4 linked regions of the Homo sapiens genome follow. The protein of the gene in region 2 interacts with the protein of the main gene of each other region in a biochemical or structural test. Each region holds a gene or a part of one and is shown on either strand. Other genes may lie near its edges.

What was found.
Region 1: the proteins of SNAP25 (region 2) and SRCIN1 form a complex in vitro, tested with the Homo sapiens proteins (one study listed by BioGRID).
Region 3: the proteins of SNAP25 (region 2) and KIF5B form a complex in vitro, tested with the Homo sapiens proteins (one study listed by BioGRID).
Region 4: the proteins of SNAP25 (region 2) and GOSR1 form a complex in vitro, tested with the Homo sapiens proteins (one study listed by BioGRID).

The regions. Positions count from the first base shown.
Region 1 is NC_000017.11:38,602,941-38,610,628, forward strand, and holds the start of SRCIN1 (SRC kinase signaling inhibitor 1), read right to left. Parts: upstream 3,013-7,688; 5' UTR 2,766-3,012; coding exon 2,744-2,765; intron 1,779-2,743; exon of another isoform or gene 1,663-1,778; coding exon of another isoform or gene 1,539-1,662; intron 1-1,538. UniProt on the Homo sapiens protein: Acts as a negative regulator of SRC by activating CSK which inhibits SRC activity and downstream signaling, leading to impaired cell spreading and migration. Regulates dendritic spine morphology. Involved in calcium-dependent exocytosis.
Region 2 is NC_000020.11:10,221,814-10,228,841, reverse strand, and holds part of SNAP25 (synaptosomal-associated protein 25), read right to left. Parts: intron 2,165-7,028; exon of another isoform or gene 2,062-2,164; intron 1,556-2,061; exon of another isoform or gene 1,404-1,555; intron 1-1,403.
Region 3 is NC_000010.11:32,032,426-32,039,453, forward strand, and holds part of KIF5B (kinesin-1 heavy chain), read right to left. Parts: intron 7,007-7,028; coding exon 6,902-7,006; intron 6,402-6,901; coding exon 6,353-6,401; intron 5,794-6,352; coding exon 5,738-5,793; intron 5,183-5,737; coding exon 5,095-5,182; intron 4,954-5,094; coding exon 4,829-4,953; intron 3,570-4,828; coding exon 3,465-3,569; intron 3,243-3,464; coding exon 3,097-3,242; intron 2,414-3,096; coding exon 2,265-2,413; intron 1,614-2,264; coding exon 1,420-1,613; intron 350-1,419; coding exon 281-349; intron 1-280. UniProt on the Homo sapiens protein: Microtubule-dependent motor required for normal distribution of mitochondria and lysosomes. Can induce formation of neurite-like membrane protrusions in non-neuronal cells in a ZFYVE27-dependent manner.
Region 4 is NC_000017.11:30,522,392-30,528,104, reverse strand, and holds the end of GOSR1 (Golgi SNAP receptor complex member 1), read right to left. Parts: 3' UTR 513-5,713; downstream 1-512. UniProt on the Homo sapiens protein: Involved in transport from the ER to the Golgi apparatus as well as in intra-Golgi transport. It belongs to a super-family of proteins called t-SNAREs or soluble NSF (N-ethylmaleimide-sensitive factor) attachment protein receptor.

The sequences.
Region 1 (7,688 bases), on a different chromosome or scaffold from region 2:
GTGGGGGTGGGGGCTCAACAAACTGGGTACTTCAAAGAGCCCAGCCGCCTCCCTCCTAAGCACTTCCAGGGCTGGGGTTTTGGCAGAGAATTCCAAGGTTGGCATAGGCAGATGGCAGCCATGCCACCCCCACCCTCTAGCTCTGACCACACTGTCGATGCCCACAGCCAAAGAAGGAATCAATGGTTCTAATTAAACCCTTTTTCCAGGGTGGGTCCCTGGCGAGAGAGAGGGAAGAGGGAGAGAGACAGGGAAGGGAGGGGGGAGAGGGGGAGAGAGAGAGAAAGAGAGAGAGAGAGCGCGAGAGTGCATCAGAGAGGCCCTGCATCCCAGTGCCCAACCCAGTATCCTGCACATCTTTAAGACGCCTGGAACCCAGCAGGGATGAGGCCACGAAGACCCCAGACCCTCCGCATTAGGCAAGGAGGCAAGTAGAGGGGCAGGGGAAAGCCTGGGGTGGGGGTAGCTCTTTGAGGGGTTCATTCGAGCGACCCTTCCCCTAGTGGAGCATCCCTCTCCACTCAGCACTCCCCGAGGACCACAGTTGCCTCTTCCAGATAGAGCTCCAGGGCACAGACAGTGGGAGCCAGAAGGGGGATTTGTGCCTCCATCCCAGCCTTGAGGGTCATCACAGAGAACCAGCCATCGTGGAAAGGGCAGAAGAAGCAGGAATTGTTGTGGGGGGACTGGACAAAGACCCTCTTGTCCCCAAGGCAGGGTGGCAGGAAGCCAGGGCAAAGCCTTTGCACTTGCTGCCAGTGGTGCCTGGGTGCCAGGCAGTCTGGGTGGGGACAGCGGGGTGGAGGGGGGGTGCATCTTATTCTTGGAAACCCTCCCCTTATGCCCAGAGCCCTCACCCCATCCCTTGCTTCTACCCCAGGCCACCAGCTAAGTCTCTGTCCCCAGCAACTCTCAGCTTGCCTGGAGCACTCCTTCCTGTGTGAATGTTCCTTCCCATGTCCCTGACACCTGTATGGAGTGGCCCATCACCAACCAGAACCAGCAAAACCCCTCAAATGCACCATAGCTGCTCCCCACATACAACCACACCAGAAACCACCACCATCACAGCTGCCACCAGTGGCGACAGCCTCACAATCTCCATCAAATGCATCATCAATTTTTAAAGATCAACAAGAGGGAAAGGGATGGGAATAAGAGAAACTGAGGCAAGGAATTAGACAGCAAAGCAGTTGGCTCAAGGTCACCCAGACCAAGATACCAAGAGTCGGGAAGAAGGTATCCTGACGACCCCCCAAAAGTGCTCAAACCCCACCCAAAGGAACATTCAGGCCCACAAACCTGGAAGTCTGGTCAGCTTCCCTCACTCCCAAGCCTCACCTGTTTCTCCCTTCCCCAAAACAGACAGCAGCTCCTCCATCTCCTTTTGAAAGGCTGCTGCCAGAAACCCCCACCCCCAGCTCGGGGAGCCCACTTTCCTTAAAGTTGGGGTGCTGCAGGACCTCCTTGTCCCACAACATTTGAGGAGGGGGGCTGGGAAGATCCCCCTCCTTGCATACTTCCCCGCGCCTGCTCACCTGGCTCCCCTCGGCCCCCAGGGTCCCTCGGTCCAGCCTCCTCCCTGGGAGAGCGGGCTCTGCCCTCCGCCGTCCTCTCCCACCAGGCCAGGGCAAAGCGCCGGAGGCACTGCCAGGGCTGCATGGGGACGCGTGGGGCTGGGGGACGAGCACCAGCAGCCGCACACGCCCCGCCGGGCCCTGACAGCTGAGCTGCGGAGGCACCCGGCCTGTCCCCTCTGCTTCCACCAGCATCCTGCTGCCCCCACCGACAGGACTCGGAGCTGGCCCGGGAGCTTCTGACGTAGCAGGGGGGTGCGTGGGAGGGGAGGGGGGGCCACGGTGCGTCCCCTTCCCAGCCCCACCCTCCACCCCTCAGCCGCCTGCCTTCCCTATCTTCTCACTCACCCTAGATGCCCTCCCCAGCTGGGGGCGCCCTCCCCTGCCCCCTGGCCTCTGCAGGGGGAGGGGTTAAGATCAAATAGCCCCTCCCTAAACCCCTCCCTCTCGTGGCCCTCCCTACCCGCTGGTAGAGCGGGGAGCTGGTCCCCAGTTTCTGCAACTGCTGCTGAGGCTCAGAGGTCTCCAGGGCTAGGGCCTCGAGGTGCGGGGAGGGGGGGTGTGTGGAATACAGGCTTGTATCCTGGCAACGCGGCCAACCCCAGAACGCACTCATCCCCTTCCCTCCCTGGAGGCTGGCGCAAAGGGCCCACCACCACCATCCTAGCCCGTGCACCCCATTCTGGGAGCTGGGGGAGGGAGGCCTTTGATGCACCCCTCACTTCTCCATCCCCTTCCCCTCCCCTGCATCCTCCACTTCCCCCACCTCGGAGGGACGCCCTTCTCCCCCCACCCTCCTCACCATCCATCCCCCTTCTTCTCCTCACCCCTCCCCCTTCCACACAAGCCCCTTTACAGTTGAACCCCTCTGGCCCCCACCCCGGGGCGTAGTGAGGCCCTCCCCACCCAGTCTCCTGCCTCGCCACCCTGCCCCCTTCTCTGGTCCCAGCACTCCTCTCGCCCGGGTCCTTCTCCCAAGCCCGGCGCACAGCGGTCCCCTGCCCCCACACACCTGCGCCCCAGCATCCCTCGCCCCGCCGGCCACCGCCTCCCCGGCCCGGCCGCCGCCCCCGCCCCCGGCCGAGGGGGAAAACACACAAAGAAAACAGAAATACCTTCCACTTAAGCATGGAGGCACATTAGGGAGGAGAGAGACAGGGACATGCCTTGGGACGGAGCGTTCCCCATCGGGCGGGGGCGCGGGGGGCGGGGGCCCCGGGCCGGCCTGCCTGGCGCTCGCCCTCTCGCCGCCTCGCGGGCTCCTCGCTCGGCCCCAGCCCCGGGGCGCGGTGCCAGGCGGGCGGGCCGGGGGCGCGGGCCCCGCCGGGGTGGACCAGCTGGGAGGGCGCCGGCGGCCGGGCGTGTGGGTGAGCGCGCGCGCGGGCGTGTCACCGAGTGTGCGAGAGCGAGTGTGTGTGTGTTTGAGTGTGTGTCTGCGCGCGCGCGGGCCGGCGCGGGTGTGTCACTGCGGGCGGGCGCGCGCGCGGCGCGGGCGCGCGCGTGTGGCCGGAACTTACAAAGGGCCGCCCGGGGCGGCGGGGGCGGGGGAGGGGAGGGGGCACTGCGCCTTCTCGCGCCCTCCAGCTTCACCGCGTGATCCCGCAGCGCGCGGCCGGGGCCGGGCGCGGGGCGCGCTCACTCTCTCCTTCCCGCGCCACCTGCTTCGTCCCACCCCAAGTAGTCTTCGCGCCACGATAGAGACAAATACATTGACCGAGGACCGGCTCGGAGGAGGCACCCGGGGAAGCGGGGACACTTGGAGGGTGGAGGACTCCTGGGTCTCCAAGCCCGGGCGCGCCTAGGGATGGAAAGGCTCTCGGGGCTGGGTGGGGAGGCGGGGCGGCGAGACTGGGGGCTCCCTTCAGCCAAGGTGACCGCGGAAACCAACAGCCGCCCCATGCTGGGAGCGCCCGGATCCTCCTCTGCTTCTGCCTCGCGACCCCTCACCCCAGCGCGCCTAGACGCGGCTCGGTCGGAGGGTCTGGGCTCCCCGGCGCCCCCTGCTGGGCCGCCGCCTCGCCCCCGCTCCGGGTTGCAGCCCCTCCTGCAGGCGTGCGCGGGAACTGCAGGCAGGTCCGCGCCCCTCCGGCCAGTGAGACCCCACCGTAGGACGCTCCAGCGACGGTCCCTGCTCACGCCTCGCTTGGCGGCGTCACTGCCGCCTCTACTTCAGCCCGCAGAGCACTAGCTCGGCTCCACCCTGCCGTCCCCCGCCCCTCCGCGTCCCACCTTCGTTGGCCTACCTGTTGGCTCCGCAGACTTCTCCAGCGCTGACCCGGACCCAGACCCAGACCCAGGCCCGCGCCGACACCTCGTGATTCCAGCGGCCCCCTCCCTCCCTCGCTCCGATGCTCTGGCCAGTCCCTTCTCTCTCAAGCTTTCTTGCGGAGGAGAAGGTGGGCTGAGTCCCCTGTCCCTTTTATTTACTTCTGGAGTTTCCAAAAGCAGTTTAGGTGAGCAAGAGAGTGGACACAGTACTTCTATTCACTGTGGGCCATCAGGCAGAGTGGCAGGCAGGCAGAGAGCCCAGGAGAGGAGACCCCACCCCAAGTGGCCCAAATGACAAACCGGTTTCCCCACTTCCTGGTCTACCCAGTTGCAACCTTAATCTGGGCTCTCCCAATTTCCTATCCACCCCCAGGCCTGCCCCTGAGCCAACCACATGCCCAGCTAGGGACAAGGTCCCAGATTCCCCTTAGAGATAAATAACCAATTGCAGTAACTCAGATGCCAGGGCCAGGACCAGAGGAGAGGCCCTTCCCAGCTCCAGTGGGACAGATCAGGAGGACAGCCAAGAGCTGTGTCCTGGACACACAGTCTGGGCACACGACCCCAGCGGCAGGCACCCTGACTTCTTCCCTCCTGGGCCAACTGCCTCTCCCTCTGCCAACTGGATGGTGCCCATCTTTTGGCCTCTGAGCGCACAGTGGGCATCCATCCAGTGCCCTGCCTGGCTGCCTGCCCAGGATGGGCATGGGAGGCAGCAGGCTCTGTGTGGGGGAGGCTCAGGGGAGGCAAGGGTAGCTTCCCCTCAGCACACGGACACCACCTCCCAAGCGGCTGGGAGCCCAGAGCTCTGGCACAGGTCGCTCCTCCGTTCAGATTCCTCACCCACTGACTGCACAGGACTCCTGCCCTTCACCTGCCCCCAACTCAGATTCCCCCCAAGGGACAAGATTTCTTCCCTCCCCCACTTTGTGCCTAAGGGGAAGAAAATTAGCAGGTGCTCTACCATAATCTCTAATTTTACCCTTTCGACAGCCTGATGGAAGTGAGCATTTTCAACCCCCTATCAGAGAGATATAGCCAATTGCCCAATGTAAGAGCAGCAAAGTTGAAATTCAAACCCACATCTGCCTTATGTCAAAGCTCCCTGCCTTTCTTCTATCACCATCATCTCATAACCCTGTGGGTCGCCACAGCAGGGACAACCCCTGGGACACAAAGTCTCATAACCATATAGTCGTTAGAAGAGAACTGAGATCAGGAATGTGGCTGAGAGTTAAGATGTATAGCCATGCCATAATCAGGAAGGAGACAGGGATCTGGTCCTATTGTGGAGAGAGTGACCTGAGGCATTACCTCTAGTTGACAATTGAAAAGATGCTTGTGCCATCATGTGGAGATTTGCCTGCCCAACCCCAGTGGCTTGGGGTGGGGTGGGAAAGGTTCTGTGATGCAGCCCCCAGGGATTGGAACAGTTCCAAAGGTGTCAGCAGAACGAAGCATCCATTTTTACCCGCCCTAAGGTGAGCTCGCTCATCATGAAGGCCACCTCCATAGTGAGGAGCTTAAATCAGATTTATGTAATATTTTTAATTTGTATAGCTCACCTTTTAATGATGAATCCTTAGCATTTCTGATCATCTTCATAGCTATCAGCTCATTTGAGACCCTTCTGCCCTCTCTTCCCCAAAGATGCTTTGTCCACACCCACCCTGCCCAGCTGACTCCATGGGTCTCCTGGAGGGGTGAGAAGGGATACAGCTCCCTGAATAGAACCCAAGGTCCCAAGGCTGAAAGTGGAGCCAGAGGACAGATGGCCTGGCATCATCGCCCCTCATTGACCCCAAGAAAAATACGTGCCTTTCCCTCCTCCCACCAGGTCTCAAAAGGAGGGGTTCCTGGTGGAGAGAGAAGGCTGGGGACACCATCTCCACTGATCAGGGCAAAAGCAACACAGGTATTACTTCAGCTGAGAGATGAGAATTGCTCCTGTAAGCTGGCATGGTGCCCAGGCACAACCAATTTGCCAGCTGCCTCCACCTGAGATGCCTCAGGTGCCGCCCCGCCCCCGCTCTCATTCCTCAACAGGTAACTTCCCTCTGGTCCTCCTCTCCTGTGCCTCTGGCAGTGTATTTGGTGGGGAGGGGGCAGCTGGCATGTTTGGGGCTTGGAACAGCAGATCCTAACCACTCACCTTGCCTCCCCAAACATCCCACCCAGCCCTCACCTGTTCCTGGGAGCTTGCGAGAGAGAGGTTATGGGGGTGCACCCTAGAGGAGAGAATTCTCAGCCCTGCCTCTCCTTCCCCAAGATGCAATAGGAACAGGGGTTGCATCTGGACAAACATCTGGGCAGGCAAAGGGAGATGGGCCTTGGGGTGGGCAGAGAAGGGCATCTGGGCCTCTAGGAGAAGGCACAGGGAAAAGGTGACGTGGAAATAATGGCTGGGACACCCCAAACTGGTCACTCTGCTGCTTTGGAGCACCCCCAGCCCAGTATCCTTGAGAAAGCCCCCGGTCCATGGGGCTGTTGTCTGGCCAGGCATTTCATGAGACCCCAAGGAACCATCCACATTCCACTAAGGGTGGCCTGCAGACAGTGAGGGCCTGGGGACCTGGTCCTATTCTGGGTCAAGTAACCAGGGGCAGTGACCTAGCACCTGGGGCACAAGAGGGGTGGGGGAGGAGCCAAGGAGGAGGAGGGTGCTTCCCGCTGCCCCAGGCCTGCTTCTGGGGCTTTCTGAACACAGCCTGGTCTCCCAGAGCCCCTAAGCCTCCCTTCTCACATTCCTCACCCTCCTGCTCCTCCTCCCACTCCATAGGAGAGGAGTGAGTGGCAGTAAATTTCTAAAGACCCTCCCCGCTTCCCTGCTTGTTATTGTAATGAATGCTAATGATGCTCCCTAACTGATGCCCTCATTAGCACATCAAACCCGCTTTCTGAAGAATGGAGACAGAAAGTGGAGGCAGGTTCTCTGGGGTCGGAGCCGTAGCCAGCCTCCTCCAGAGAACCTTATCCCGTTGCTTCTGGCAGGGAGGGACCAGCGTAGGGGCTTGGAGTGAAAAGCCGAGGTGTTCCCCTCCCAGTGGGAATTTCCTGAGCACAAGGCTGTCTTCCCTGTCAGATGGCAAGGGTTCCATCTGTCCCATCAGACTGGGAGCTCCTTGAGTCAGGCACCTTGCCCCCCTCATTAAGCCAGGGCTCCCCCTGTGGTAGGGCAGTGGCTCTGAAAGTAATTGGAAAAGCCCAGTTGCCTGGAGGGCATGTTAAACCAGCGATTGCTCCCCTCCCCTCAAGGTCTCAGATTCAACAGATTTGAGGAGGGGCCTGAGAATTCGCATTTCTTTTTTCTTTTCTTTTCTCTTTTTTTTTGAGATAGAATCTCACTCTGTCACCCAGGCTGGAGTTCAGTGGCTCGATCTCGGCTCACTGCAACCTCTGCCTCCCGGGCTGAAGCGATTCTCCTGCCTCAGTCTCCCGAGTAGCTGGGATTATAGGCACCCACCACAATGCCCAGCTAATTTTTGTATTTTTAGTAGAGACCGGGTTTCACCATGTTGGCCAGGCTGGTCTCGAACTCCTGACCTCAGGTGATCCACCCGCCTCAGCATCCCAAAGTGCTGGGATTATAGGCGTGAGCCACCGTGCCCGGCCCCACCCTGACAATTCTTTTTTTTTTTTTGAGATGGAGTTTCACTTTTGTTGCCCAAACTGGAGACCGGAACTGGATCCCTGATCCCCTGCTGTGTGCCAGGTCCATGCTCGGTGCTGCTGATGCCAGTGGATCTCCTTTCTCTGTAGGAGGGGAGAATAACCGCAAGGGAGAGGGTTCCTAGCACCCACCTCACTCTGGGTGACCTCCCAGGGCCTAAGTGGGGAGAGGGG
Region 2 (7,028 bases):
TATGGCCTTCATGTAACCTATAATAAAGAACCCTGGAAATCTGGTATGGCAAATAGCAGGTAACTGAACATAACAACAGTCCCTTCCTCTTTCTCAGAGTGGTGGAGGTAACTACTTCACAAGCATTAGCTCCTTTAGGTCTCACGACAACCACTTGACATATATGCATGGCAGCAATTGCTCTCCTTTTACAGATGTAAATAAAAGTGAGGCTCAGTTCAGATTAGGTAAATTGTTCAGGGTTATACAATTGAAGTGGCAGAGCTGGCATGCAGCCAGCTGACTCTCCACCCATTGCTCCATGAACTTGTTTGGACACATAGTTTCTCTGGTCACTTACACCACCATATCTCACCTGGCTATTTAGCTTGGAGGACTCAGCTTTTTAGATTTGGCTGACTCACGTTCTATGTATCAGCAGTGTGCTTTCTGTTAGAGGATCTCAATGTATTTTGTGCAACTCATGGGATAATTTATGGGGTGGTGGGGAAAACCATGGACTTTGCAGTCAGAGACAAGTGTTCCGAACTCTTTTAAGGCTGCCATGGAAAATAAAGGAAACAACATACATCAAGTGCCCAGTGCAGCACACAGTAGACATTTAGGAAGTTAGTTACTTTTTTCCTTGTGGTCATTAAGTGGTAGTATCTTCAGTCTTCTCTGGAGAAAGTTGGATGCAGAGTAACCCGTGTTTTCATGAGAAGGAATGGGGAAAAAAGATATGCAAAATTCAATGCTCAACTGGTGAAGGTTTTTTTCTAAGGACAAATGGGACTTATTTACCAAATCATGCCCAGGCTTATGATTCTCTCCCAGGCAAGAGGACACTGACTATTTGAGAGGAAAAGCCCAGAGACTGGTGTCTCTGAAGGACACTTTTAAGGAAGCGGAATTGACATGAAAAACTTGTGTCCACCATGCCAATTCTAATAGCACAGCAGCAAATATGTGACCCTGAAAACACAAGTTGGCCAAAGCCATAAATCTACCCCACTGGTGAATGTAATATATGTCTCAAATGGATGTATGAAATATCCTTTTCATCCTAGTGAACAGTAAAACATTTAAACTTATAATTCATATATGCTAAACTGCTTGACTTTAAATGCTCTTAGTGAATGGCTTTTAATCTCTGAATATAAACCTGATTTTAGCAATGCCTTTATTGAGAATCCTTTGATCCTTCGTTAGCATTTTAACTCCTGACTCATAAGTGATAAAACAACAGATTAGAATATTATACCATTTGCCATAGTTTGGCAGCTAGTTAGGGTAAACCTAAGTAATTCCTTGGGACATAATTTTATTCCAATATTTAGGATGAATCTATGTGCAAGGGTACACAACAATTCCTGAGTTATTCTGATCATAACATTTGATCAATAAAAAGCAGGATTACTTACAGTGGTAGAATTCTTTTCTCTGCAAAGGGGTAGCTGGTATCCCCATTCGCTCACTTATTTCCTGCATACATGGGTGTGGCAGGCACTGTTATAGGTACTGAAGATTCAAAGAAAGCTAAGATATTACCCTTGCTCTCAAAGACTTCCAAAGTCTATTAAGAAAGAGAAATACATAAGTAGGTAACTACAAAGCAGTGTGATCAATCTTACAAGGGAGATAGGGGCATTGCTCATTGGTAAGAGGTGAATTTCTAGAAGTAGGAGTTTGGGAAATTAAGACATAATTCTACTTGATCCAGAATCACTACATAATTCTACTTGATCCCGAATCACTGAACTTTGTTTAATGACAGGAAGTTTTCAGAGGAGGAAAGTGGATTGGATTGGGAAGTACTCTCATCCAAAGGATCCTTTCTTAGTCAACCTATTCTTGCATTGCTCCATGAGTTTTGGAGTTGGGAATAGGATTTCTGGCCCAGGAGGTACCATGTTTCTTAAAGCTTGACCCCTTCCTCCCATGAGCGGCAGAAAGTGGTCTCTACAGGGAGAGATCCCAACAGATTGGGATACTGGAATATAGTCATGTATTTAAGGGACATTTTAGTGACATCCTAGTTGATTGCCATGTAAATAGAGACAAGTTCACACAAAGACATACCTTAGATATTTACTGAGTTCGGTGATGGCTGAGGCTGGTTCTTAATATGTATTTGTTTATGATATAGCAATCTCTCTGTAGATACTGACAGCTCAGTAGAAACCTTCAATAGATTGTATATTTTGATTAGAGAGCCATAGCTCTTTTCTACATTGAATTAATGTCTTAGATTCTAAAAGGCATCCCATTGAAACATGCCTTTTAAAATAATGACACCTCAAGAGGGGACACCTAGCATAACACATGGAGGGCAGAAACATGATGATTTTATTTACAGCTCTGACTTTAGGAACCAGTGTATGTTTTCCTGGTACATGGCAGGTGTTCAATAAATATTTGTTCAATGGATTAATTAATGAAGAATGCCATAATAGCAGCTGATTTATGATGAAGCAATACATGGGCAGTGATCATGGAATTGGAAAAAGTAGATACATTCAGCAATTTCTCTGGCATAAATTAGGAATGGACTTTCCCATTAAAATAAAAAATTCACTCAACAAGGCTAATGCGTATTGAAATAGTTTGCCAGTGTTCTTCCTAGCAGTCTTTCTGGCATTTATTTCTGTGCATTTTCTGTTTATTGATAGAGAAGTCACAGTGTGATTTACCTATACCTAGCTGCCAGACCAACTTCGGAATAACTGCAGGGAAATTTAAGAAATTCACTGTTTTGGAATTTGCCAGTTATTATTCTTTGAAACTGTACCAAAGATGAACATAAATAAAGGAGATTAACAACTTGGTCTGAGACTCTTCATGGAAAGGGAACTCTGTCCAACTTGCAGGATTTTCAGAGCTCAACTGAGAAAATTCTCTGAAAAAGGAATGAGGCAGGAGTGTAGGGCTGAACTCTGGCCTCAGGGGGGCACCTAAGAGACTTTCATTTTTTTACTTGCTGTTATCAGTAAAGGACAGAAACCACTGATTCAAGGTTACAGGCATGGAAAGTCATCTCTCAAGTTCAAGATCTGTGACTAGTGTCATTTGAATAAAGGAAGTGATGGGGAAGCTGGGACCAGATGGTCATTTTGTAGAACCTGCCACTTTGGAGGAAAATAACCTTTTTCTTTAAGTAAAAATGGACCACCTTGGAAGATTAAGACACAATGAGTCAGCAGAAAGTGCCAACAGTCTCAATTTAAGACATGAGAATTAGACATCTTTGAGTAATATGAACCATATCAACAACAGCAAAGAAGAGGATGAAATATATTTTTCCACAACCAAAGAAAGCAAGCCATAAGCCCAGTACAGCTGTTATTCAGCATCATTCGGGAGCAGGCATCATTTGACTGAATTTCTCTGGAATCATTGTTAAGCATTTAGAAGGAAATGCTAATCCTTAAATAGGATTTCCCCCCATCTCTTTTTAGGGATACAGATTTGTTCTTACCAGTAAGTCAGTCACTGCTGAGGTTGACCTCTGTAGTCAACAATAAGAAAATCAGTTAGGATTTCCTCTTGTGATACCATGTTTTACCTTGGTGGAAAGACATTGAAATCTGCAGTAGGTTGTGACAAGGCGAATGTGTTTTTTTTTTTTCCCCTCCGGGACATGTGAATTTATTTGATGTGTGACTATGAATTTAATTAATCAACATTGTACCACCAACTGCTGACCTCTGACCTCATAGGCTTTAAAGCTTCCTTCTCTCCTTGTCCTATGTTTTTAAAGCTTTCCTGTGATGTCATTTTACCCCACATCCTCCCAATGTGATTAGTTTTTGAGCTGGCTATCAGTATCATGAGATTCAGGTCACACAGGAATGTTACTTTTAAAGTACTTTACAGCTCACAGATTCTATAAAAGCTTCTGTTTCCTCTTTGCTAAGCGGCAGAAGAAGTAAGAGGATGAGTGAGGGAACTGCAGCTAATACATTGCTAAGTCAGACACACGAGATGATCAAGAAGAGGTCTAGAAAGAAATTTATACAAAGTTTAGGCAGGTTGTAGGAGACAGTATGTGCTAGATAGCTACAAATCTGATTGAGAAGGACAGGAGATACCCAAAGCAGTGATGACTCAGAATAGGGCTTTGAGGAAGAAGACAGGATTTCTTAACTCTGAGAAGGCTTCAGAAAGATGAAGGCAAGCAATTCTGAGGGGGGAAAAAATAAGGATTGGGATGAGGGAGGCGATGAATGTAATTAATCTTCCAATTGGGTCCAGATCAGTTACTGAAGCATTATTAAGATGATGCCAGCTGAGGCCATCGGTCACTAGGCCAGGACCCATTGCCTGGGGTTTTCAGCACTGATTTCATTGATTTTTGAATGGTAGGGATATTGGACATCATTAGTCCACTTCTATCATTCTGCCAGTAAAGAAACCAAGTTCAACAGTGGTGCACTGACTAATTTAAAGACTGTGTAATTCCAAACAGGAAATTACAAGCAGTTGTTTCAGGGCTAGAGCTGGGTCTCCTGGCTCTGACCAGCATCCTTACCTTCAGGCCTTGCTACCCAAGTGAGGAGGAAAAGACTGCAAAAAAAAAAAAAAAAAAAAAAAAAAAAAAAAAAAGACATGTACATTCTCTATGCCTTATTTGGCCAATATGAAAAATATGGATGATGCAAGAGGTAGCATAAAATACACTTCATAGCTTAATCTCTGGAGTCAGACTGATTACATTTAAGTCTTGGCTCTGCTCTGCGACAAGTTACTTACCCTTGCTGTGCATCAGTTATTTCATCTGCGAAATGGAAATAATAATAGTAATCTGACCACAAGGTTGTTAGGAGGATACAGTGAGCCAGTATAGGTAAACACTTTTAGAATGAGTGTCACATTCTTCCCCATAAGCCCATTCTGATTAATCACTGATTTGGGTATCTCTGTCATTCTAAATCAATTTATGTCTTACTAAATGTGATCTAATACTATATCTGAACATATGTGTCTGTGGGTTGCACTATTTATTTAGAAATCAGAAATTCCTTGGACTTTCATATTGGGTGAAGTGCTTGAGAGTCTTGTGAAGAAAATTATGTAGAAAGAGTAGGTATTATTGTTAAGGCAATAATAGCAATTCTGAGGAGTTCACAGTGTAGCTGGGGTTCTCTAGAAATTTCTATGAAGTCTTTTTCCTCTTGTAAGACTTTTTTTTTTAACTTTTTGTCCCCTCATCATGTCCTACTTCCTCAGTGCTATGTCATATCTCCTTCCTTCACCTTACTTGATGCTTGTGTAGCCCCTGGACTCAGTTTAATAACCACCAACCTGACCTCCTAAAGCATCAAATGTCACTACCTCTAAGTTTCCCCTAGGTAGTCAGCTTGGATATAAAAATGTTATCCTGTGGTGTCTCTACTGCCAGTGTTTTAGTGAAGAATAGATGAGGATAGTCTCTTGATACCTTATAGCCAGAAATGAAATGGCAGTAAAATCTGTATCTACCGTTGCCATTTCTTCCTCTACATGAACCCACTGACTATTTTGGCTTAGCAATTCTGTCAGCATTTGGATTTTTGAAGCTCTTCTGTGAGAGTAGTAACCACAAGGTTAGAAAGGAAATGGGTGTAATCCAGACCTCGAGGTAGCCCTGAAGTGAGGGTAACTAGCAAGAGTCAGCAAAATAGGCAGGGAAAGAAATCTGATATACTACCCATTCCAGTTTTTCAAAATTCTACCATTCCATCTTTTTCCTCCCATTTTTAGCCACTTGGGGCTGGTCCTATATGTCATGCTGCTCAAAACATGCTCAGAAGAAATGACAACTTTTTTCATTCCTCCCGTCAGTGCACTTGACAATGCTGAATATTCACAGAGGGCAAGAGAGTGTTCAGCACCATGTTTATTATTCAAGTGCACCTTCTGGGACCTTCTGGGGTGTCTCATCACCAGATTCTTGACTTTCTTTTCAGTCTGCCTGGCAAGTGCTCAACTTGCATAATTTCATTTAGTCAATAATGGAAAATGGAAACTTGCAATTAACTTCCAAGCAGGAATTATATGTCTATGTAGGTATATGTATCCTGAAAAGTAGTCTTAAAAGATGCTTCAGTAAGGACTGATTTTTTTTCATTAACCATCTCTTATGATACCAATTTGCTCCCCTCTACTTCTGGAAGAATGCAAATTAAATCCACTCTGTCAATAGTAATTTCTGGATATTAAAAAGACCTGGTTACTTTGTTATATCAGCTTCTGCTCAGAAATCAACTTTAGAGGATAAAGTACCAAATTCTCAGCTTGACATTCAAAGCCTTCCACAGAAGGCTCCAACTCTGCATCCCAGCCTATTCCCTCCAAGCTTCCCACTCCACCCAAATCAATGGGCATTTTCAGGGTTTGCCAACTGTAGAGTGGGCTTGCCTAACTTGATATTCTGCATATGTTGTGACTTCAGCTTAACAGAACTCTCCCACCTCTCTGCAACCTCCAAAAGCCATCTCAAGGCCTGCCTCTTCTCTCAGATTGTTCCAGTCCACTGCGATATCGCCCTCCTGATTTTATGTTACTTATTGTTGGTTACATTCACTTGGAAATTAATCACATATGTCCTCAAAATTTGTCTTCTAATGTTTTATTGCATTTAATTCTGGTTTTATTTATTAACTTATTGTTTATTGCTTTTATTAAGATTGCTAGATGCTAAACTTATTGAGGTCAAGACAAAACCATGAAATTTTATAACTCCCATGGGATTCATTTCTGTATCCGGTGAATACCGATTGATCAGTATCTTCCTATCAGGTTGGTACTTGCTGACAAGGGATGACATTGCAGAAAGTATCCAGCGCTGAGGCTTAAAACACAGATTTTTCCTTCTTTTATAGAATTGTAAAGCAGTCCCATAATGTGAGAAACATTGTTTATTCATAGTGAATTATCTAAAAAGCATATTTTCTATTTTTCTCCTTCATGTCTCCTCTCTCAACCTCTTTCTCAGATTATTTTTCTCGTTTCTACTAATCGTCAAAACCTACGTGTTATGCTGAAGGCTGACTGCTTACGCAGCTTCT
Region 3 (7,028 bases), on a different chromosome or scaffold from region 2:
GCTCTGCTGGGTGAGAAGATAAAATGAGGATCCAAAGTAAGTGACAAGAAGAGAAATGTCAAGAACCAGGGTGAAAAAAAAGATGGCGGAAATGAACAACAGATTGTATCTGGGTAGATACGATGAATAAGTAAAAATTCACTTTATCCATGTGACATTCTTATTCCCACAAAGACAGTCATACCCAAAATTATACAACTATTAAAGACAAAGTCAATGGGATTCAGAAAACAAAACTATAAAGCTTTTCTGGAAGCAATGTAAAAGGTATTCAACTCACCTCCTCCTGATCCAACATTTGCGTCTTCAGTTTCTCTACCAGTTGACTTTGCTGGTTAATTTCTTCATCCTAGAATTGTGAAGTATCCGGTTAACCAGTAGCTAACAACCTGGTTCTAGTTGTTTCCCAATACAGGTTATAAGATTACTACTCCCCAGAAATATTTCAAAACCATTTCTCTAAATTCAACATTGCTTATTTTAATCTCTTTTAAGAAAATGGCAAAACAAAAGGAATTTCTTTCAATTATCAATACTTATAATGGTCATGTACTTCGAACCTGCCATCTCTGCTTAAAATATATTAAAAATATCAACTTAAGAAAATATTTTCTTCTAATCTCTTTACTACTCTTGTTCTTGCCTTCCATTCTATTACGTTCTTAGTTTGCTATTATTCATACTATTGACATTACTTCTATATGCAAAGCAGGAAGATATTATTTCCACTCTATTGTGTTTCCCTTAATCTCTCACATCATCTTTTATTGGAGTCTTCAGAGCCCTGATTCTAACAATTGGTATCATTGAGGCTCCCAATGACCCAATGCCAAATTTTCATTAGAACAGGGGTCCCCAAGCCCCCAGGCCACAAAGCAGTACTGGAAGCCTGTTAGGAACCAAGAAGCACAGCAGGAGGTGAGCAGCAAGCATTACCACTTGAGCTCCGCCTTCTGCCAGATCAGCAGCATTAGAATATCATTAAGAGCGCGAACTCTATTATCAGCTGTGCATGCAAGAGATCTAGGTTAGAGGATCCTTATGAGAATCTAATGCCTGATAATCCAAGGTGGAAGTTTCATCCCAAAACCATCTCCCCGACCTGATCCACGGAAAAACTGTCTTCCCTGAAACCAGTCCCTGGTGCCAAAAAGGTTGGGGACTGCTGCCTTATAAAGTTCTTTTAGCTTAAAAAGAGGGGGAAGAAAAGATACATGCTCATACAGTTTCCACACAGAAATTGAAATTATGACTTTTTATTTTGTTAATACAATAATTTTTACAAGATTAACAGAAATCAAGGAAGATGCATAAAGATCCTAAGTGCCCACAGCACTGAAATGAGAAAAGTTAGAAAATAAAAACACCCATGTCAATAGTATCCTAATATAAAGCAGACCTAAATCAAGCAATACCTACCTTGTCATCAAGCTGTTTGTATAATTTAGCAATTTCTTCTTCACACTTTCTTCTTTCAGCATCAGTAAAATTTCCTATAACTCCAATTGCGGTTGCTGGTTTATCATTGGTAAGAGTAATATCTTTATCCACTGTGAAAGCTTCCAAGTTGGCTTTCTCTTTGTCAAACTGTTCATCAATAGGCACCGTCTCCCCTAAAATAAGAAAATAAAGTGGTTAATAAAAAAACGACGTCTAAAGCTAATTTCAATTTCATTCCTTTAAAAATTTTTTTTTTTTTTTTTGAGACAGAGTCTCAATCTGTCACCCTGGCTGGAGTGCAGTGGTGCAATCTAGGCTCACTGCAACCTCTGCCTCCAGGGTTCAAGCAATTCTACTGCCTCAAGACTCCTGATTAGCTGGGATTACAGGCGCTCAGCACCATGCCAGGCTAATTTTGGTGTTTTCAGTAGAGATGGGGTTTCAACATGTTGGCCAGGCTGGTCTCTAACTCCTGACCTCAAGTGATCTGCCCACCTTGGCCTCCCAAAGTGCTAGGATTACAGGCATGAGCCAGTGCACCCAGCCTCGTTCTTTCAAACTTTTTCTTCTCTGTGTTATTTTCAAATAATCTGTCTTCAAGTTCAGATTCTTCTGCTTAATTAATTCTACTACTGATGGTCTCTTGCATTTTGCTCATTTTATTTTTCAGCTCCAGGATTTCTATTAATTTTTTTAAAAATTATTTCGATGTCTATTAAATTTCTTGATCTAGTCACTTACTGATTTTGCTGAACTATTTCTACGTTTCTATGCTCTAAATCTGTATTTAACAAACTGAAGATGACAAATTCTTAAGTTATTACCATTACGCCATCTGTTGAGCTCATTTTCAAGCCACTGAATAGTGTTCCGCAGGATCTTATTTTTTTCTTTTTCTTTTTCATACTTCTTTTTCCACTGTTCTGCAGTTAACTCCACATTGACACAAACTGTGTTCTTAATTGTTTTGGCCCTAAGAGATGTAATTGGAGGAAAAAAAGGATGAGACTGAAATTATTTTTAATTTTATCTATATGGAATATATGTATATATGGCTAAGAAACTTATGCTTGTCCAGTAATCTCTTAGACTAAATACTAAAAGCCGCAACATATGACGTTATTTACAACTCAACTAAATTTGAGTCTGCTCCAAAATCTGTGAATAGCTTTAAAAAAAAAAAAATCAACAAACCACTAAAAATAAAAGACAAAGGCCTATATTTTTCCAATTTGTTTGCAAGGCTGAATTAAGAAATTACTGTTGAAAGTCAAAGACGGAATCATCATTACTGATTTTCCTAATCATCTCATACAGATTATATTAACCTGTCATGCATGTCTACAGGCTTAACAGAGGATTATGTTTGCCAGGCTTTGACCTCATTATTTGATTCAAATGCTTATTTTCTTTAATACCAAATTACAGCTTGTCACACAAATTTGACTAAAATTACATCTGACTTTAATGTGTACTAAAACTTAAACCAAGCAGTCTAAAAATCAGACCCACCTTGTATTATCTGTCATCAATTCAAACTGAGTGTGTCTAGCACAAAACAGTATGTACAGGTTGGAATAACAGCTCACATTTTCCTACATTTTATAAACAAAAGGTCTATCTAAATTTAGGTTTTGTACTTTCTTAACAACAAACCTTTGGCCAAATAAGAGTGTAGATTTTGTTTCAGACTCATTGTATGATGATGGAGAGCAGCAAATTACAATAGTGGTTCTACAGTTGCCACCTAATGAATCTTGAAGGATTCTTGTCATTTTACTATCTCGATATGGAACATATGTCTGCATACAAAAACAAAGAAAGAAAACAAGACCAGTATAATAAAATGTTATTATAAAATAAACTCCCAAAAGACAACTAACTTACACATACTGATTCAAACACATTGAATCTCAATCTCTCTTTCTCTCTCTCTCTCTCATACACACCCAGGCACACATATACACCTATATTTAAATAATGCCCCATAAGGTAACAGGGAGATAGAAGACATGTATACTCACACTACCCTCAGCCAAAGCAGAAATAACATTTCCAAGAGCAGAAAGTGACTTGTTGATGTTTTTAGCTTCATCCAGCACAGCACCTTCAGCTCCAGTTTTACTAACCTATACATAAGATTTCAAAAGAATGAAACAAAATTACAAGTTTATAATTTTCTTTACATTTTCTAAAATGTTCATATGTCATCAATAACCAGTAAAAAAGAAAAAAGAACATGAAAAGCTTCATGATCTTATTTGCCAAGCATACCACCATTTCTTGAGTACTACTCTTAAGAGTTTGATTAGAGAGACATCAAATTTTATCTGTAGTTTGTAGGTACTCTTGAAAATAACCAATTTAAATGTAAATTTGTAGTTCATTAATCTGTTAGTCCCCTTTGCTACATTAGAAAACAGGAACCTTCTAAAATTGGCTAATGCATAATGTTGATGTTGTAACTGTTAGAAAACAGAGACTGAGTTTTAAACACATTATATAAGCAAATCTGCTTCTTTTAAAAATATATAAAATATCTAAATATCTATGTTGTGGTGTTTTTTTTTTGGAGACTGAGTCTCACTCTGTCACCCAGGCTGGAGTGCAGTGGCTTGATCCCAGCTCACTGCAACCTCCGCTTCCCGGGTTCAACCAATTCTCCTGCCTCAGCCTCCCCAGTAGCTGGTATTACGGGCATGTGCCACCATGCCCAGCTAGTATCTATGTTAAAGATAGGTCAGAACAATAAATTAGCAATGTTGGCTGAAGAAATAGCTTAGGAGATTTCTCAGATTAGATAATCTTTGAAAGATGTGTGTAAGACTTCAGAGTAGAACGGAATAGATATATCATTCTAAGCAGAAGAAACAAAATTAGCACAACAGCAAAAATGGTCAGAGGTCCCTATTATAACATTCAAACTTAATTTGATATAGACTAGAATCAGACTGTATAGAATTGTAATAATGAAACAATAATCCAAAGGAAAGAAATAAGTCCAACCAAACCAGAAAAGACTAATCGAGAGTTACCAGTTTTAATAGGGACCCCACTGCCAATATGGATAAAATACGTATCAAAAATTAGAAAAGGGATATCTAATAAAGTTTATAACAACATATGCTGAACCAGTTCTCACTATGAACATATCTTAAGTCATAGAAACCACTTATGGGTTGAACTAGAGTATGGTCAAACAACAGTAACTTGGAACTGATTATTCAGCTGATATCATCATAAGGCACTGGCATCAGCGGTTACAAATCTCAGGTTACCAAATCCAGTTTGGTAAGTAAGATGCAACAATGAACCCTGCGTAACTCCCAACTCAAACTAAAGTTTACAAAGATGCTTAAATATTTGTCAAAATACATGAAGACTTTACCTTTTCACTACCAGCTAAATCAACCAGATAAAGTTTTCCACTCAGCTTTTGTTCCGTTTGTGTGTTCTCTTGTTTGACATTAATAAGAAATATACTGTGACTCCTAGAGCTATGTTCATTCATATCTGCAAGGAAATTACACAAACAAATATAAACAAACATGATTTCCCCTTAACAATTTCCCTGAAGCAATCTTATAATTAATCACCTGGATAAGGATATTTTAAGCTGGTTTTAAATCCTAACCAGTGTTATTTTCTACTTACTTGTAACTGCTACATGTCTGTTGGATTTTCCTTCATCTATGGTATCCATAACTTCATCTGGACTACATACAAAACGCTCTGTGCACCCCTGTGAAATAATTTTTAAAAATATGTTAATGTCTGGCCAACATGATGAAACCCTTTCTCTAATAAAAACACAAAAATTAGCCGGGCGCGGTGGCGGGTGCCTGTAATCCTAGCTACTTGGGAGGCTGAGGCAGGAGAATCGCTTGAGCCTGGGAGGCAAAGGTTGCAGTGAGCCGAGACCATGCCATGCACTCCAGCCTGAGCAACAGAGCGAGCCTCCATATATTAAATGAATTGGCTCACGCCTGTAATCCCAGCACTTTGGGAGGCAGAGGCGGGCGGATCACGAGGTCAGGAGTTCAAGACCAGCCTGGCCAACATGGTGAAACTTCGTCTCTACTAAAAATACAAAAATTAGCTGGGCGTGGTGGCGCATGCCTGTAATCCCAGCTACTCAAGAGGCTGAGGCAGGAGAACTGCTTGAACCCTGGAGGCAGAGGTTGCAGTGAGCCGAGATTGCACCACTGCACTCCAGCCTGGGCGACAGAGTGAGACTCTGTCTTAAAAAAAAAAAAAAAGTATTACAGGGTTTTCTAGACAACTGTACTATAAATACCTTTACATAGGGAACTCGGTTTTTGTCTTCATGAACTGAAAGGTTGGTCTTTGAAACTGAGAAAGAAAAACAAATGTTAGCAACATTCTCCTAAAACTCTTAACACTGGATATGAAATAACTGATAGGCTTTCCTGAGCAGCCTAACAGCAATAGTTGAACTCTAAAAACATATTAAAACATTGCTCTAAAGCAGACCTTACAGACACAGCAGGAGATGTAAATAGAAACCAATGCAACAATATAGAATTTTAGGACCACTCCAACCTACCACCCACATTTTATAAACAAGAACATTAACCCTGAATGGTTCAATGATTTGCCTAAGGACAATGTATCTAATTGACAGTTGACAGAAGACTAGAACTCAGGGCTCAGATTATGTAACTCCCAGTCCAATGCTCTAATTACTACTAAGAAGTACCCATAAACATCGCTTTAAACTAGTTATTCTATTTAAAGGTATTCAACTAAAACTTTAGAAGAAAAAAAATTTTGTCTATTTCCAATAACTTAAGACAATTTCATATAGGTTACAAAGAAATAGTCTCACATCTATTATTAAAAAGGAATTAACAGATGTTATTTAAAACTGATTAGCAAGAATTTAACTTACCATCTAACAGGTCCCTTATCTTATCCAAATATATTTCAAAATATGAAACCTAAAGGGCAAATTTAAAAAAACACCGATCAACTAAAGTTATATAACTTATTCGCATATTGAGGTCTGAGTGCTAGGCATTGTTTAGACTAGAGAGACAGTTATCAACATACCAGCCATAGCTCACATTCTAATGGGAAGACATAAATTAGCCAAATTAGCTTAGTTATTTAAGCAGTCTTCCCATTGGACATAAATTACATTATCTTCATCTAAAATGAATTAGAATAGTTTTATGTAGTAGAAACCTTCAAGTTCTGCAGTAAAGCAACCTCCTTTATTTTTTGAAGGAGGCTAAAGACTTAATCATTTACGTTAGTTAACATTCCTGTTCATCTAATGGCAGATGAACAAAAATCCAAGTTTACTAACCTGAATGATCTTTCAACTGTACCTTTCCAGAAAAACAATTTTTAAAATTAAAGAAACCAGCATTTACTATTTTTTTAGAACATTATTCTTGCTGTAAAATAAAATATAATCTTTCCTCAAGGAATTTACCTTAATATGAAATTCCAAATTTTCATCCATGGAGTAAATATAATTAAAAATATCTTGCACTATTCTTGGAATAATTCCCATGCCTTCTGGATCATGAAGTTTACCCTAAACAAAAAACAAAACTAGA
Region 4 (5,713 bases), on a different chromosome or scaffold from region 2:
AATATTCACACATTACTGGTAGGCACGGGCATTGGCACAATTGCTTTGGAAAAATGTCTGACAACATATCTTAAAACTGAGTATGTGCATCACCTATAATCCAACAATCTTATTCCTAGGTATAAGCAACAGAAAAGTGTACATGTGTGTCCCAAAACCCATGTTCGAGAATGTCCAGAGCAGCACAATTTGTAATAGTTCCAAACTAAAAATAAAAGCTATCGGTCTAGAATGGAATGACTAAATAGAATGTGTGTACTTATAGAGCGTGGTTCTCCACCTCTGGCATGCATCAGAACCGCTTGGAGGCTGGTTAAACTGATTGCTGGGTTCCACCTGTCTATCTACACAGAACCGACCTTATATTTCCCCGCTCAGCTGCCTTTATCAAAATTAAGGATGTCTGCTGATCACCTCTTGAATGTTCTCTCCTCTCCCACATCAGCAAGAGGGAAAAAAAGAGGCAAAAGAGGCCCGGTTTCTCGCTATTAGGACAAACCCAAGGATATCTCTTATGTCAGGTGAGCCCTGTACCCCTGGCTTTGCTGAGATGCTTATGAGCATTTCCTCACATAACCCTGACAATATAATCAGGGCACAATTATGGTAGCCATCCTTATCACCATTTTATAGAAGAGGAATTGATCACTGGCTGGATTAATTGCAAAGCTCTAAAATTAGACAGTGGGGCTGGTTGCACAACTAATGTACTAAAGCCCAGCAGTACACGATTTTTAAAAAATTAATTTATTTTTGAGACAGGGTCTCTGTCACCCAGGCTGGAGTACAGTGGCACAATCGTTGCTTACTGCAGCCTTGACCTCCTGGGCTCATGATCCTCCTACCTCAGCCTTCCGAGTAGCTGGGACTATAGGTGCACACCATCATGAATGGCTAATTTTAGTTTTTGTAGAGACAAGGTCTTTGCTGTGTTGCCCAGACTGGTCTCAAATCCCTGGTCTCAAGCAATCCTCCTGCCTCGGCCTCTCGAACTGCTGGGATTACAGGTGTTAGCCACTGCACCCAGCCAATTCTACAATTGTAGATTCCCATTATGCCTCCTGAAGTTTCATGTTAAGAGATTCCCCTTCACTTCTAGGGCTAAAATACTAGTGGACTGTTCATATGATGGTTTCTGAATGACATGTGACAGCTTTTCAGCACCTGTATTATTTCATCCTGGGTTTCAGGACATCATGAGAAACACTTATCAACACCAGAGATACCATAATCTCTATCCCCAAACTACCTTGATGGTTACTGTTTCAATATAAACAATTACAAATGCAATCATTTAGATTTCTAATTTATTATTAAATTACATACCAAAGCTTCTTCTATACAGTCAGAAAATGCACATTTAGATGAGAACAAAAATTAAGTACAAATACAATAAAATTGGTTCCAAGAAGCTATTTTAAAAGCAAAAACTTACAAAGTGCATTTGGAAAACAATAGGTTTTAAAAATCTGTATTGGCATTTTTTCAAGAGGAAACATCTTCCATCACAGGAAAGTATGGTTGGAATTGATTTCCCTCCTCCCTTAAGAGCTAACAGGGTGGGAATGGATGCAAATACCTTGATATTAAAGTGAGCTCTCAGGTATCTTTTAATTTTTTTTGCAGAGACAGAGTCTTGCTACATTGCCCAGGCTGGTCTCAAACTCCTGGCCTCAAACGATCCGCCTGCCTTGGTCTCCCAAAGTGCTAAGATTACAGGCGTGAGCCACTGCACCCAGCCCTATTGTCATGGTTTTTCATATTTTTTCAGTGAAATGAAAAGTTTTGAGTGGTTACTTAAAAGGACCAAAAAGGAAAGATTCATTATAATAAGACAATAGTTGAGGGGGCATAACTTCCCCTAAGAGGTAACATTTGGATCCAGAAGTAGAAAATTCCTTCTGACCTCCTGGCTGTGACTAGCATTAACAAGTAACTAACTGTTAGCCTCTGAATCTGGTAACTGGTCCGTAAGGAGGACAGCAAAAAAGGAGAGAAAGCCAAGGTGGTTAAACAAAAAAGTTAAATGACATGGAGCTGAAAGAGCTCAAATCCCTTCATGGGATCCCCACGGAGCCCCTTCCTGTGGACACACACCTCTCTTCCCTTGCTGGAGGTTTCTTTCTGCAAAGAAACCCTAAGAGGAAAAAGCACTGGCCTAGCTGTCTACATGTGGCCCTGGGTCACCTTAGTATAGGCTGCAGCACGGAGAGGTTAGTCAGACCTATCTGACACCAACATCCATACCAAGCCTTTTAACTTCCTTGGAAGAACTGGTTTATTTTCATAAAGAAAATAACCAACATAATTCCATTACTTCACATAAGCAAAACCCTAATGGAAAGGCCCATCAGCCATCAACAGGGTTTGCTTGGCTGCAGTGAGCTAGACTAGCTTGTGTCCCAGTTCACTCTCACACAATCAGCTTTAATGAATGCACAAAAGAATCAGACCAGTAAAAAAGACTGGTAGTATAATTAAATAAATAACTTTATTTATGATACTTCAGATTTTATAAATGCCAACTACATAGCAAAGTCCCATAAATTTTAACCGAGACACAACCACCAATCAAGGCCCTTTGAAAAATCAAAGATAATAAAGTGTCAAGGGAGAAAAGTTTTGTTCTCCCAACAGAGAATTTAATCAATGAACTTACTTCTCTGATCATTTAAGGTTCACAATGGGAAAACTTCTTTTCTTTTAAGGGTACCCTGAATCAATTAACAGTCAATCAACCCACATTTAGAAAAATAAACCCCATAGTTAAGAAAAATATATCAAATGCCCTTCACACCCATAATGTAACAAAACTTTGACACCAGAATGAAAAACTTCTCAGTCTCTGTACCAAACCAGGTGTTAGTCCACCCATGAGCAAGTTCGCCTGAATAACAGCATCTATACACCATGATGTAGCTGAGAACTACAGCTGATATCCTTTTATTGCCTGTGGCTCGGACTGAAGCCAATACTATAAATACCACAGTGAATTCCAATGGTGAAGAGCAGCAGTGTAGATGTTGGAAGTCTACAAACCAGGCTGTAGTTCAGTAAGACAAGTCATGAATTTACAGAAACTAAGAAATGGTTAACTCGAAAAGAATTCTGGTGGCTGGCTTAAAATCTGTCACTGTCCAGGGATGGTAACAGAAGACAGGTGCAGAGAGAGACAGATTCTGCCACATGCACCCTCAACAGTGAAACCATTCTCTGGATGTTTGGAAATGCTTAACAGATTTGGAATGAACAGATTTTCACAGAACTCAGGATTCCTGGTACATCAGGCAGTAGTCCTTAAACTTTTGCCCATACGTTGTGGAGCATTTACAAAAGCAATTCTCTGGACAGTGAGCCCTCAATGCCTTTTTATATGTGGCTTCTTGAATAGATCACATTAGAAATTGAGCAGTCCCCTTCCTCAGCTACCAGTGTCAATGCTGGTATGAGGAGGAGCAGTGGGGGCACTGACAGACACTGGTGATTCGTTTCTTTTATCATAGTGGAACTGAGATTTCATTTCTTTTCAGTAGAAAATATTAATCCAAGGGAAGAATTAAAAAAAAAATGGAAACAATGACTGGTGCCTTAAATATAAGACTGTCATTCTTGATGTTTTTCCAGCAATACAGTTAACCCCAGTGTACTTGTAATTTAAAAGAAAAAGACAGTTTTACAGTGATCTCCATTTCAGACAACCTCAAACATGCTGAAGCTGGTCCATCAGCATCTCAAAGAATCTATGAAAAACAGAATTTTCCCCAAATATCAACAGAGTTGAGGAGACAGAGTAGAAATCTATAGCACAGATCATCAAGAAAGAACTTGTGATTTCTCATTATGAGTGTAAAATAAGAGGACAAGAATTATTATTATATTATTTTTTTTTTAATTGATCATTCTTGGGTGTTTCTCGCAGAGGGGGATTTGGCAGGGTCATAGGACAATAGTGGAGGGAAGGTCAGCAGATCAACAAGTGAACAAAGGTCTCTGGTTTTCCTAGGCAGAGGACCCTGCCGCCTTCCGCAGTGTTTGTGTCCCTGGGTACTTGAGATTAGGGAGTGGTGATGACTCTTAAGGAGCATGCTGCCTTCAAGCATCTGTTTAACAAAGCACATCTTGCACCACCCTTAATCCATTTAACCCTGAGTGGACACAGCACATGTTTCAGAGAGCACCAGGTTGGGGGTAAGGTCATAGATCAACAGGATCCCAAGGCAGAAGAATTTTTCTTAGTACAGAACAAAATGAAAAGTCTCCCATGTCTACTTCTTTCTACACAGACACGGCAACCATCCAATTTCTCAATCTTTTCCCCACCTTTCCGCCTTTTCTATTCCACAAAACCGCCATTGTCATCATGGCCCGTTCTCAATGAGCTGCTGGGCACACCTCCCAGATGGGGTGGTGGCCAGGCAGAGGGGCTCCTCACTTCCCAGTAGGGGCGGCCGGGCAGGGGCGGCCGGGCAGAGGCGCCCCCCACCTCCCTCCCGGACGGGGCGGCTGGCCGGGCGGGGGGCTGATCCCCCCCACCTCCCTCCCGGACGGGGCGGCTGGCCGGGCGGGGGGCTGACCCCCCCACCTCCCTCCCGGACGGGGCAGCTGCCCGGGCGTAGACGCTCCTCACTTCCCAGATGGGGTGGCTGCCGGGCGGAGGGGCTCCTCACTTCTCAGACAGGGCGGCTGCCGGGCGGAGGTCTCCTCACTTCTCAGACGGGGTGGCCAGACAGAGACGCTCCTCACCTCCCAGACGGGGTCGCGGCCGGGCAGAGGAGCTCCTCACATCCCAGACGGGGCGGCGGGGCAGAGGCGCTCCCCACATCTCAGACGATGGGCGGCCGGGCAGAGACGCTCCTCACTTCCTAGATGGGATGGCGGCTGGGAAGAGGCGCTCCTCACTTCCTAGATGGGATGGCGGCCGGGCAGAGGCGCTCCTCACTTTCCAGACGGGGTGGCGGCCGGGCAGAGGCTGCAATCTCGGCACTTTGGGAGGCCAAGGCAGGTGGCTGGGAGGTGGAGGTTGTAGTGAGCCGAGATCACGCCACTGCACTCCAGCCTGGGCACCATTGAGCACTGAGTGAACGAGACTCCGTCTGCAATCCCGGCACCTCGGGAGGCCGAGGCAGTCAGGCGTGGCGGCGCTCGCCTGCAATTGCAGGCACTCGGCAGGCTGAGGCAGGAGAATCAGGCAGGGAGGTTGCAGTGAGCCGAGATGGCAGCAGTACAGTCCAGCTTCGGCTCGGCATCAGAGGGAGACCGTGGAAAGAGGGAGACCGTGGGGAGAGGGAGAGGGAGAGGGAAGAATTATTTTTATTCACAATCCAATCTGGCAGCTAAAAGAAAAGCAGTCTTTGGATGTAGAAACCTGGTTTTCTGAAGAGCCCAGCTGTAAGACCTGGCTTGTCATTAGGCTTCAACACTATCATGGAAACACAGAAAACTCTGTTTTTGATTGGTTTACCTGCCTCCTAGGGAGACAAAAGCAACTGAAAACCTTTTTTTTTTTTTTTTAATTAAAAACAGAAAAATGTGTTAGAAAACACAGCACAGAGAAACTGTGGCTTCAGCTCAACCTGACCATGTCACAGAGTCCATCACTGTCAGTCTTGCATTCATCCTGCTGGTCAGGCTAATTATCAAGACAGTCAACTTCTCCCTCCGATGTTTCCTTATTCCAGACCAGGGTGTGAAAGCGGTGGCTGTCAAGAGTCCC